Regions from separate parts of the Homo sapiens genome. Here region 1 is linked to region 2. The links come from fine-mapping of genetic effects on gene expression. Tissue or cell type: left ventricle. Region 2 holds a variant in brackets; the other region holds the start of a gene. All regions are shown on one strand. Distances are from middle to middle. Region 1 holds the start of LGALS2 (galectin 2). Region 2 overlaps TRIOBP (TRIO and F-actin binding protein).

Evidence for each region. PIP is the estimated chance that this variant, and not a neighbour inherited with it, causes the effect. A credible set is the group of variants that fine-mapping cannot tell apart.
Region 1: it holds the start of LGALS2, and the variant in region 2 is the best candidate, but not a certain one, in a credible set for the expression of LGALS2 in left ventricle (GTEx, PIP 0.74).

Annotation. Positions count from the first base shown.
Region 1 is chr22:37,576,900-37,582,301 of GRCh38, reverse strand. It overlaps LGALS2 (galectin 2), which reads left to right and starts at 2,215. Exons shown (of 4, transcript NM_006498.3): 1 at 2,215-2,402. The coding sequence starts at 2,397. RefSeq lists a silencer at 1,829-1,888.
Region 2 is chr22:37,704,053-37,709,393 of GRCh38, reverse strand. All of the region lies in intron 3 of TRIOBP (TRIO and F-actin binding protein), which reads right to left. Among named protein-coding and RNA genes, the nearest start is that of TRIOBP, 9.7 kb to the right of the region's middle. The variant C/T (reference allele first, on the strand shown) is at 3,100.

The DNA.
Region 1 (5,402 bases), 130 kb after region 2:
CAGACTCCTGAGTAGCTGGGACTACTGGCATGTGCCACCATGCCTGGCTAATTAAAAAAAATTTTTAGTAGAGATAGGGTCTCACTATGTGGCCCAGGCTGGTCTCGAACTCCTGGACTCAAGCGATCCACCCACCTCAGCTTCCCAAAGTGCTGGGATTACAGGGGTGAGCCACCATGCCCAGCCATTCTTTTTTCTTTTTTTAAATCTTTCATTGGTATAAAATATATACGCAGCAAAGTACGTAAATGATATGCATGGTCATTTTCCCCTGCTTTTGAACATTATTTTAAAACAAGTGAACTTTAAGTTCCTTTTACTGTGTGTACTTTCTGGAACCTCCTATAGTGAGATAATATTATTATTATAATCAGAAAAATGCCACCTTTAAAAGGTATAGTTTCTGTTGATTAGTTTCCAGGGAGAAAGCCTTTTAAAATTCCTTATCTCACTGGGGTTTTACCATGCCTTTGGGAGAAAGGCCGAGAGAGGATTAATTTCCTTGTGGGTGAAAGGAGGAAGTCACTCCTCACTCCGGGCTGGCAGGGGACTGAAGGTGGTGTCCTATGTGGGCACTGGGCAGTGAGCCACCTGCAGACTCCTGGCACCGAGGGCCCTCGGCAAGGCCAGTTCCCCACATCCTGCCCGGAGTGGCCACCGCCAACTCTGATGGAAAACGCTCTGGCTCGCCAAATCCTGAGCTCTAGAAAAGTTCTCCTTCTGGGAATCTGCCCTACATAAGTTGTCACGATGCAGCCAAAGTTTATGTCCAAATAGATTTAATGCAGCAGTATTTTTAATAGCAAAAATGTAGAATTAATGTGAGTGTTCAGCAGAAGGAAATTGGTTAAATAAATTCAGTCGTTGAAAGGTAGACTATTTCGCAGGCATTAAAGTATGGTTCTGAAATATAGATTTGTGGTCTTTAATGTTTCCCAAATGAAGAGAGATAAACAATTGCACAGACAGAGGGGTGTCTATAATGTAAATCTGTGGAGAACCGCCTGGAAGGAAATGTGCCAACAGCGTAAGCCAGTTCCCTCGTGGCGGTGGCATTATGAGTGATTATTTTTCTTTTTATTTAATATCTCTAATTGTCTATAGTAAGCATGCCAGTTACATAAGTAACAGAAGTCAAGAGCAAAGCATTTTCATCCTCCATGTCCCCCACTCAGCCCTCCCACTCCTTCTGCACTTTTATTTATTTTTTATTTTTTTATTTGAGACGGAGCCTCACTCTGTCGCCCAGGCTGGAGTGTAGTGGCGCGATCTTAGCTCCCTGTAACCTCCACCTCCCGGGTTCAAGCGATTCTCCTGCCTCAGCCTCTTGAGCAGCTGTGACTACAGGTGCGACCACGCCCAGCTAATTTTTGTATTTTTAGTAGAGATGGGGTTTCACCATGTTGGCCGGGCTGGTCACAAACTCCTGACTTCAGGTGATCCGCCTGCCTTGGCCTCCCAAAGTGCTGGGATTACAGGCTTAAGCAACCGCGCCCAGCTCTCCTCTGCTTTTGACCATTTGTTGTAAATAGTTTGAAATCTTTTCTTTGAATCCGTGTATTGGTTTTGAAACCTACATGTCCGATCAGATAAATAATATGGGGAGGGAAGAAGAAAACATAATGCTCTCTGACAATGAATCATAACATCATAGAAAATTAGAACCTTAGGCCAGGCGCAATGGCTCACGCCTGTAATCCCAGCACTTTGGGAGGCCAAGGTGGGCAGATCACGAGGTCAGGAGATCGAGACCATCCTGGCTAATACGGTGAAACCTCGTCTCTACTAAAAATACCAAAAAATTAGCCGGGCATGGTGGCGGGTGCCTGTAGTTCCAGCTACTCGGGAGGCTGAGGCAGCAGAATGGTGTGAACCCAGGAGATTGCATTGAGCGGAGATCGTTGCCACTGCACTCCAGCCTGGGTGACAGAGTGAGACTCTGTCTCAAAAAAAAAAAAAAAAGAAAATTAGAAACCTAGACTTTTTTTTTTTTTTGCAAAGCAAATCTCTCTTTTTACAGGCAAGGAAGCTGGGCTAAGTGAGGGAGGCTGGGAGAGCTGTCAAGCGGCTGCATTGCGGTTTGTGTGGGGGCAGAGCTGGGGCTGCTTCCCCTCTCGGGCTCTGGGAGCGCTGAGGAGGGGGAGGCTGGGCTGGAGGGAGGCCAGGAGGATGCTCCGGGCTGGGTGGGGTGGAGCTGGCTGAGGAGTCTTCTGCCTGTTTGTGCTGGGTACTGGGAGATGCAGGCGGGGAGACACAAGGTAGAAGGGGCAAAGTCCTCACCTAGGACCTTGAGGGAGTTAATGTGTAATATTCTAGGATATAAGCTTGACCACGAGTTGAGACCCTGAGCACAGGCCTCCAGGAGCCGCTGGGAGCTGCCGCCAGGAGCTGTCACCATGACGGTGAGGACACTAGCCCCCTGCTGCCTGCCCCACTCTGTTCATCTTTGTCTTTGCCTGGGTGGGGGCTTTTAGGGAAAACCATTGCTGTCCCTCTCTGGGCCTCAGTTTCCCCATCTGTGCAGCAAAGAAGTTGGACAGAGGTCTTTTTTTAAAAAACAGCATCTTGGGCCAGGCGTGGTGGCTCCTGCTTGTAATCCCAGCACTTTGGGAGGCCGAGGCTGGTGGATCATCTGAGGTTGGGAGTTTGAGACCAGCCTGACCAACATGGAGAAACCCCGTCTCTACTAAAAAAATACAAAATTGGCTAGGCCTGGTGGCACATGCCTGTAATCCCAGCTAATGGGGAGGCTGAGGCAGGAGAATCACTTGGACCTGGGAGGCAGAGGTTATGGTGAGCCGAGATTGTGCCATTGCACTCCAGCCTGGGCAACAAGAGTGAGACTCCATCTCAAAACAACAACAACAATACAGCATCTTGCTCTGTCACCAGGTGGAGTGCAGTGGTGGCAATCATAACTCACTACGGACTTGACCTCCTTGGCTTAAATGATCCTCCCACCTCAGCCTCTTGAGTAGCTGGGACCCCAGGCACTCACTACCACACTGGCTAATTTTGTTTGTTTCTTTTCTTTCTCTTTTTTTTTTTTTTTTTGAGATGGAGTCTCGCTCTGTTGCCCAGGCTGGAGTGCAGTGGCCCGATCTCAGCTCACTGCAACCTCTGCTGCCTGGGTTCAAGCAATTCTCTGGTCTCAGCCTCCCAAGTAGCTGGGATTACAGGTATGTGTCACCACACCTGGCTAATTTTTTTTTTTTTGTTGAGATGGAGTTTCTGTTGCCCAGGCTGGAGTGCAATGGCACGATCTCGGCTCACCACAACTTCCACCTCCCAGGTTCAAGCGATTCTCCTGCCTCAGCCTCCTGAGTAGCAGGGATTACAGGCATGGGCCACCACACCCGATTAATTTTGTATTTTTAGTAGAGATGGGGTTTCTCCATGTTGGTCAGGCTGGTCTTGAACTCCTGATCTCAGGTGATCCACCTGCCTTGGCCTCCCAAAGTGCTGGGATTACAGGTGTGAGCCACTGCTCCTGGCCTAATTTTTGTATTTTTAAAGTAGAGACAGGGTTTCACCATGTTGGTCAGGCTGATCTCGAACTCCTGACCTCAGGTGATCCGCCCACCTTGGCCTCCCAAAGTGCTGGGATTACAGGTGTGAGCCACCCCACCCAGCTTATTTCTTATTTTTCGTAGAGATGAGGTCTCACTATGTTGCTCAGGCTGATATCAAACTCCTGGGTTCAAGGGATCCTCCTGCCTTGGCCTCTCGAAGTGCTGAGATTACAGGTGTGAGCCACTGTGCCTGGCCTCCATTGATCTTTATAGAGATAAAAAAAAATCTCAGCTTGGGCAATATAGTGAGACCTTTTCTGCTACAGGTGCATGCCACTACGCTTTGCCTTAAAAAATTAGTGGGGGTAGCGGCACACTCCTCAGCCTTGGGAGGCTGAGGATCACTTGAGCCCAGGAGGTCGAGGCTACAGTGAGCCGTAATTGCACTACTGTACTCCAGCCTGGGCAACAGAGTGAGACCTTGTCTCATATACCCACACACAAAACCCAAGTCTTGGAGAGCAAATTGCCCAAGGCCACAAGCTGCAAATCACAAGGGGTTGAGTGGATTCCCACTGAGGTCTCTGATTCGTTGATTCTACACCAGACTCTGCCACAGCTTTACTGTGTGGCCTTGGCCAAGTCACTGACCGTCTCTGAGCCCCAGTCTTCCTTACATCTGTGGAAGGGGATCACAGGCTGCCTCTTCTGAGGATTAGATGGTGTATTCATTGCCTAGGGCTGCAATAACAAATTACCACCAAATTGTGGGTGGCTTCACACGATAGACGTTTGTTCTGTCTTGGTTTTGGTGACTAGAAACCTGAAACCAAGGTGCTACAGGGCTACGCTCCTGCTGAAGGCGCAAGGGGAGGGTTCTTTCTTGCCTCTTCCAGCTTCTGGTGGCTCCTCGCATTCCTTGGCTTGCATCACTCCAATCTCTGCCTCCAACTTCACGTGGACTCCTCTGTGTGTCTCCGTCTCTGTGTCTATATTTCTCTCCTCTTATGAGAACACTGGTCGTATTGGATTTAGGACCAACCCTAAACCAGTATGACCTCTTAACTCGATTACATATGCAAAGGAACTATTTTTAAATAGGTCACATTGAGGCTGGGCGGGGTGGCTCACCCCTGTAATCCCAGCACTTTGGGAGGCCGAGGCAGGCGGATCACTTGAGATCAGGAGTTCAAGACCAGCCTGGCCAACATGGTGAAACCCTGTCTGTACTGAAAATACAAAAACAAAAAAGAAGAAGAAGAAGAAAAAAAAATTAGACAGATGTTGTGGTGGGCACCCGTAATCCCAGCTACTTGGGAGGCTGAGGCAGGAGAATCGGTTGAACCCGGGAGGCAGAGGTTGCAGTGAGCCGAGATCGAGCCACTGTACTCCAGCCTAGGTGACAGAGTGAGACTTCATCTCAAAAAAAAAAAAAAAGGTCACATTGACAGGTTCCAGGTGGACATGAATTTTCGGGGGACGCTATTCAAGTGCAGGGGGGATGCAGGATGTGAATGTGCCAGGGGTCCTGCGTGGAAGGGTCTATGCCCTCATCACCCTCTGCCTCTCGGGGAGGACTGCTGTGGCCCACGGACTCTCCCCACCTTCTCTTTCCTGGTCATCTCACCTCTGCCTTTTCTTTCCTCTCTCTCCAGCTCCAGAGGCCATATCATCCAAATCCCTTATACGACAGATAAGGGAACCAAGGCCCAGAAAGGGGCTAAGCTGGCCCCAGGCCCCTCTGCCAATTAGGGGCAGAGTCGGCACTAGAGTCTGGGCCCCCAACTCCCCACCCCCCCAGCTCTAGGGACGACCACACCCCCACCCAGTTCTGCCTGTCTCTCTCTGCGCCTTTGACTCTGTTGGGTGGGGACAAGGCTCCCGGGCCTG
Region 2 (5,341 bases):
TAAGCCGGGCCCCAGCCAAGAACAATGAAAGACATGAAACCGCAGGAACCCGATCCCAGCAGCTCACCTGAGAGCCGGGAGGGGCAAGAGCCTGGGCCTGGGATCCCTGGGGACCCTGGAGCCCAGAGCCCAGGGCCAAGGCAGCAGCCTGGTCGGCACCACAGGGTGGGCACAGGCTCTCCAGGTTCCAAGAAGGCCACTGCTGGGGTCAGGCAGTGCCAAGAAGTGGGGTTGGGATGTCTGCCGTGACATCCAGGCCAGGGGAGGCCTGGTGGGATTCAGTTTCACCCCCTGCCCTGCAGCCAGATTCTGATCAGAGCTCGGCAGCAGGAGGTGTCAGATCCACAGCCGGGCCTGGCGCCTTGGCCACCCAGGGGACAGCACAGCAGAAATGAGGAGAGACTTGCCAGGCATCAACCAGGGGTCTCTGCCCCGCCAGGCCCAGCAGGAACCCTAGCCTAATGTGACACCTCATCCTGGCTTTCACCCCAGCCCCCGTCACCACCCCACACCACCCACTTGAGTGGGCCCCACGGTCAGTCCCCAGCTCTGATTTCCTGTCTGGCGGGTCAGCACTGGCTCTGGCCTCAGATGGACCTCGGGCCCCATCCTGGCTCCTCCGGTTCCCGGCTGGTGACCTCAGGCCGATGACTTCCCCTTTCGGAGCATTGTTTTCTCCTCTCGGAAATGGAGGCTGAGAAGCGACCAAGACCTGGGCCACGTGACTTATCCTCTCTGTGCCTCAGTTACCTCATCTACAAAACCGGCAGGATAGCAGGACCCACCTCCTAGGGGTGTTCTGAGAATTAAACGAGTTAATATTTGTAAAGGGCTTTTTTTTTGAGACAGAGTCTCGCTCTTATAGCCCAGGTTAGAGTGCAATGGTGCAGTCTCGGCTCACTGCAACCTTCGCCTCCTGGGTTCAAGCAATTCTTCTGCCTCAGCCACCCCAGTAGCTGTGATTACAGGTGCCCGACACCATGCCCGGCTAATTTTTCTATTTTTAGTAGAGACAGGGGTTTGCCATGTTGGCGAGACTGGTCTCGAACTCCTGATGGCAGGTGATCTGCCTGCCTCGGCCAAAGTGCTGGGATCACAGGCATGAGCCACTGTGCCTGGCCTCAATTTTTTTTTTTTTTTTTTTTTGTGAGACGGAGTCTCACTCTGTCGCTCAGGCTAGAGTGCAGTGGCGTGATCTTGGCTCACTGCAAGCTCCGCCTCCCGGGTTCATGCCATTCTCCTGCCTCAGCCTCCCGAGTAGCTGGGACTATGGACGCCCGCCACCATGCCCAGCTAATTTTTTGTATTTTTAGTAGAGACAGGGTTTCACCGTGTTAGCCAGGATGGTCTCGATCTCCTGATCTCGTGATCCGCCCGCCTCGGCCTCCCAAAGTGCTGGGATTACAGCCGTGAGCCACCACGCCCGGCCTTTTTTTTTTTTTTCTTTTTTTTGAGACAGAGTCTCACTCTGTCACCCAGGCTGGAGTGCAATGGCGCGATCTCAGCTCACTGCAACCTCTGCCTCCCGGGTTCAAGCAATTGTCCTGCCTCAGCCTCCTGAGTAGCTGGGACTACAGGGGTCCGCCACCATACCCAGCTAATTTTTGTATTTTTAGTAGAGACGGGGTTTCACCATGTTGGCCAGGGTGGTCTCGAACTCCTGACCTCAGGTGATCCACCTGCCTCGGCCTCCCAAAGTGCTGGGATTACAGACGTGAGCCACCACTCCCAGCCAATTTTTTTTTTTTAAACATACAGATTTTTTGACTCCATGTTAGAAATCTGTTGACCTAAAGCTAGAGGCAAATATGGCCAAGGGTCCAGAATCCTTGGAGGAAAAATGGGCTAAATTTGGTCCCTGGAGACCTGTGGTGACAGAGAGATGGGGAGAGAGTGGGTGAGGCAGACAGAGTCAGCCAGGGAAGACCCGCCCCAACCCCAGCAGCAGCATCTGAGGGTGATGGAAAAAAAACCCACCCATTCCTTCAATGCCTGACCACGTGGCACCATGGAATAGGTCCAGAGTGGCAGAGGAGTGCACAGGCAGGCAGGTGGAAGAGGCTGGAAGAGGCAGTTGCCATCTTCTGGGGCCCAGGAGGTTTTTTTGTTTTTTTTGAGATGGAGTTTTTCGCTCTTGTCGCCCAGGCTGGAGTGCGGTGGCCAGATCTCGGCTCACTGCAACCTCCGCCTCCCGGATTCAAGAAATTCTCCTGCCTCAGCCTCCCGAGTAGCTGGGATTACAGGCATCCGCCACCACACCCTGTTAATTTTTGTATTTTTGTATTTTTAGTAGAGTCAGGATTTCACCATGCTAGTCAGGCTGGTCTCAAACTCCTGACCTCAAGTGATCCACCCGCCTCGGCCTCCCAAAGTGCTGGGATTACAGGCGTGAGCCACCGCGCCCGGCCCAGTGTCAGTTTTTTACTATCACATCTGGTATACACAGGGAGCTGCTACCTGCCCAGAGTTGGGTCCCAGGGCCTGGCTCGGAGACACAACAGTCACCCCTCATGCATTTGCCAAAGGAGAGTTTCACAGCCTTGATCATCATCAGAGCAACTGGAAGCTCAAGAAAGTGGAGGATTTGATGTCGTGCCCCTCTCTGATCTTTTTTTTTTTTTTTTAAGATAGTCTTGCTGTGGCAGTGGCATGATCACAGTGCACTGCAGCCTCAATCTCCTGGGCTCAAACAATCCTCCTGCCTCAGCCTCCCAAGTAGCTGGGACTGCAGGCATGCACCACTACACCCAGTTCATTTTTTGTTTTGTAGAGATGGGATCTCACTTTGTTAACTAGGCTGGTCTTAAACTCCTGGTTTCAAGCCATCCTTTAGCCTCAGCCTCCTAAAGTGCTGTGATCACAGGCGGGAGCCATTGTGCCTGGCCCCCTCTCTTGAAACCATCTCTGGTCTTGGCTCCTGGGGAGGAGGGGCACACTGTGGGGTTTGCCTCCTAGCCTCTGGCCTTCTTGGCTGTCTCTGCTGATTCCCTGGCCTCCACCCAGGCCTGTTCTCATCTCATTCCACACTTTCTTCCACAGATGATAGGCTCATCCGTGAGCAAGACTTTGGTCAGTGACAGATCCTGAAGACTCGCAGGC[C/T]TCCATCTCCTGTGATGGTCTGGCTCTGAGCTCCAGCCCCACCAATTCACTAACTTCCCCCTCATCTCCACTGTATCCTGCCGACACCCCACACCATGCCCCAGACAACTCCAAACAGACCTCCCAACCCAAGTACCCTGCCTGAAGAAATTACAGGAGTCAGCCATGGGTTTCTCCCCTCCCTCACCCCCAAATCCTGTAGACGTGCCTGCTCAATTAGTTCGGAAATGTGTCCATTTGCCTCCATCTCAAAGCCCCAATCATCTCTGGCACCGATGAGTACGTGCACCTTTTCCTGGCGGGTCACCTGATTCACTCTCACCACCCTGCCCTCCATTCTCTCTGCCCAGCAATCAGAGTGACTGTGAAAAATGCAAATCAGAGCACGTCACTCCCTTATTTGAAATCTTCCGTGGCTTGGCCGGGCGAGGTGGCTCACACTTGTAATCTCAGCACTTTGGGAGGCCAAGGAGGGCAGATTGCTTGAGGCCAGGAGTTCAAGACCAGCCTGAGCGGCATGGTGAAACCCCATCTCTACTAAAAATACAAAAATTAACTGGGTTTGGTAGTACATGCCTGTAGTCTCAGCTACCTGGGAGGCTGAGGCAGGAGAATCGCTTGAACCTGGGAGGCAGAGGTTGCAGTGAGCCGAGATCACGCCTCTGCACTCCAGCCTGTGCGACAGAGCGAGACTCCATCTCAAAAAAAAACAAAAACAAAACAGAAAAAAACCTCAGAATCCTAAGTCCTCAACATGTCCACAAAGCCGCACAAGGCCAGTGAGACCAGGCCTCCCCCCATTCTCCATCCTTGTCCTATAGCTCCTCTGTGCCCCCCTCTTGCCTGTCCTCTCCAGCCCGATGTGCAGCCTCCTTTCTGCCTCAGGGCCTTTGCATATTCTTTGTTTGTTTGTTTTGTTTTGAGAGGATTCTCGCTCTGTTGCCCAGGCTGGAGTACAGTGGTGCAATCTTGGCTCACTGCAACCTCTGCCTCCTGGGTTCAAGAGATTCTCCTGCCTCAGCCTCCTAAGTACCTGGGATTACAGGCACCCACCACCACATGTAGCTAATTTGTGTATTTTTAATAGAGATGGGGTTTCACCATGTTGGCCAGGGTGGTCTTGAACTCCTGACCTCAGGTGATCCACCCGTCTCGGCCTCGTAAAGTGCTGAGATTACAGGCATGAACCACTGCACCTGACCTGTTTGTTTGTTTTGTTTTTGAGACAAGGTCTCATTCTGTTGCCCAGGCTGGAGTGCATTGGCATGCTCATGGCTCACTGCAACCTTGAACTCCTGGGATCCAGTAATCCTCCCACATCAGCCTTCTGACTAGCTGGGACTACAGGTGTGCACCATCCTGCCTGGCTAATTTTTTTTTTTTTTTTTTTGGTAGAAATGGGGTCTCACTGTGCTGCCCAGGCTGGTCTCAAACTCCTGAGTTCAAGTGATCTTCCTGCTTCGGTGCCTCAATCCAAGCACTTCCTCCCAAAGTGCTGGGATTACAGGCGTGAGCTGCCGTGCCAGGCTGGCCTTTGCACATTCTCCTTCCTTCCTCTCCTCTTCCTGCAATTTCACTAATGCTAATGCCTGCACAGCCTTTACTAAGCAGCTGAAATGTCATTTTTTTTTTTTTGGAGAAACTTTCCCTAATGCCCTATCCTTTACCTTCATGCCACTTACTGTTCCTTTATACATTTATCACAACCAAGATTAAATAATCATGTGCATTTCTCTTGCTAGAATATAAGCCCCATGAAGACAAGCCAGGGATGTGTCCCTCTCTCCTCCTCTCCTCCTCTCTCTCCCCCTCCCCCTTCCCCTCCCCCTTCCCCTCCTTCTCCCTGTTTTCTGTACTGTTCTGTTCTGTTCTGTTCTGTTCTGTTCTGTTCTGTTCTGTTCTGTTCTGTTCTGAGTCAGGGTCCAACTCTGTCACCCAGGCTGAAATACAGTAATGCGATCACGGCTCACTGAAGCCCCCGCCTCCCAGTCTCAGGTGATTCTCCCACCTCAGCCTCCTGAGTAACTGAGACTATAGCCGCATCCCACTACGCCCAGCTAATTTTTTAAATTTTTTGTAGAGATGGGGTTTTGCCATGTTGCCAGGATGGTCTCAAACTCCAAGTGATCCACCCACCTTGGCCTCCCAAAGTGCTGGGATTACAGGAGTGAGTCACTGTGCCTGGCTGTGCCTTTCTGATTTATCATGATTTCCCCATCATCTAGCATAATGCCTGGCACAT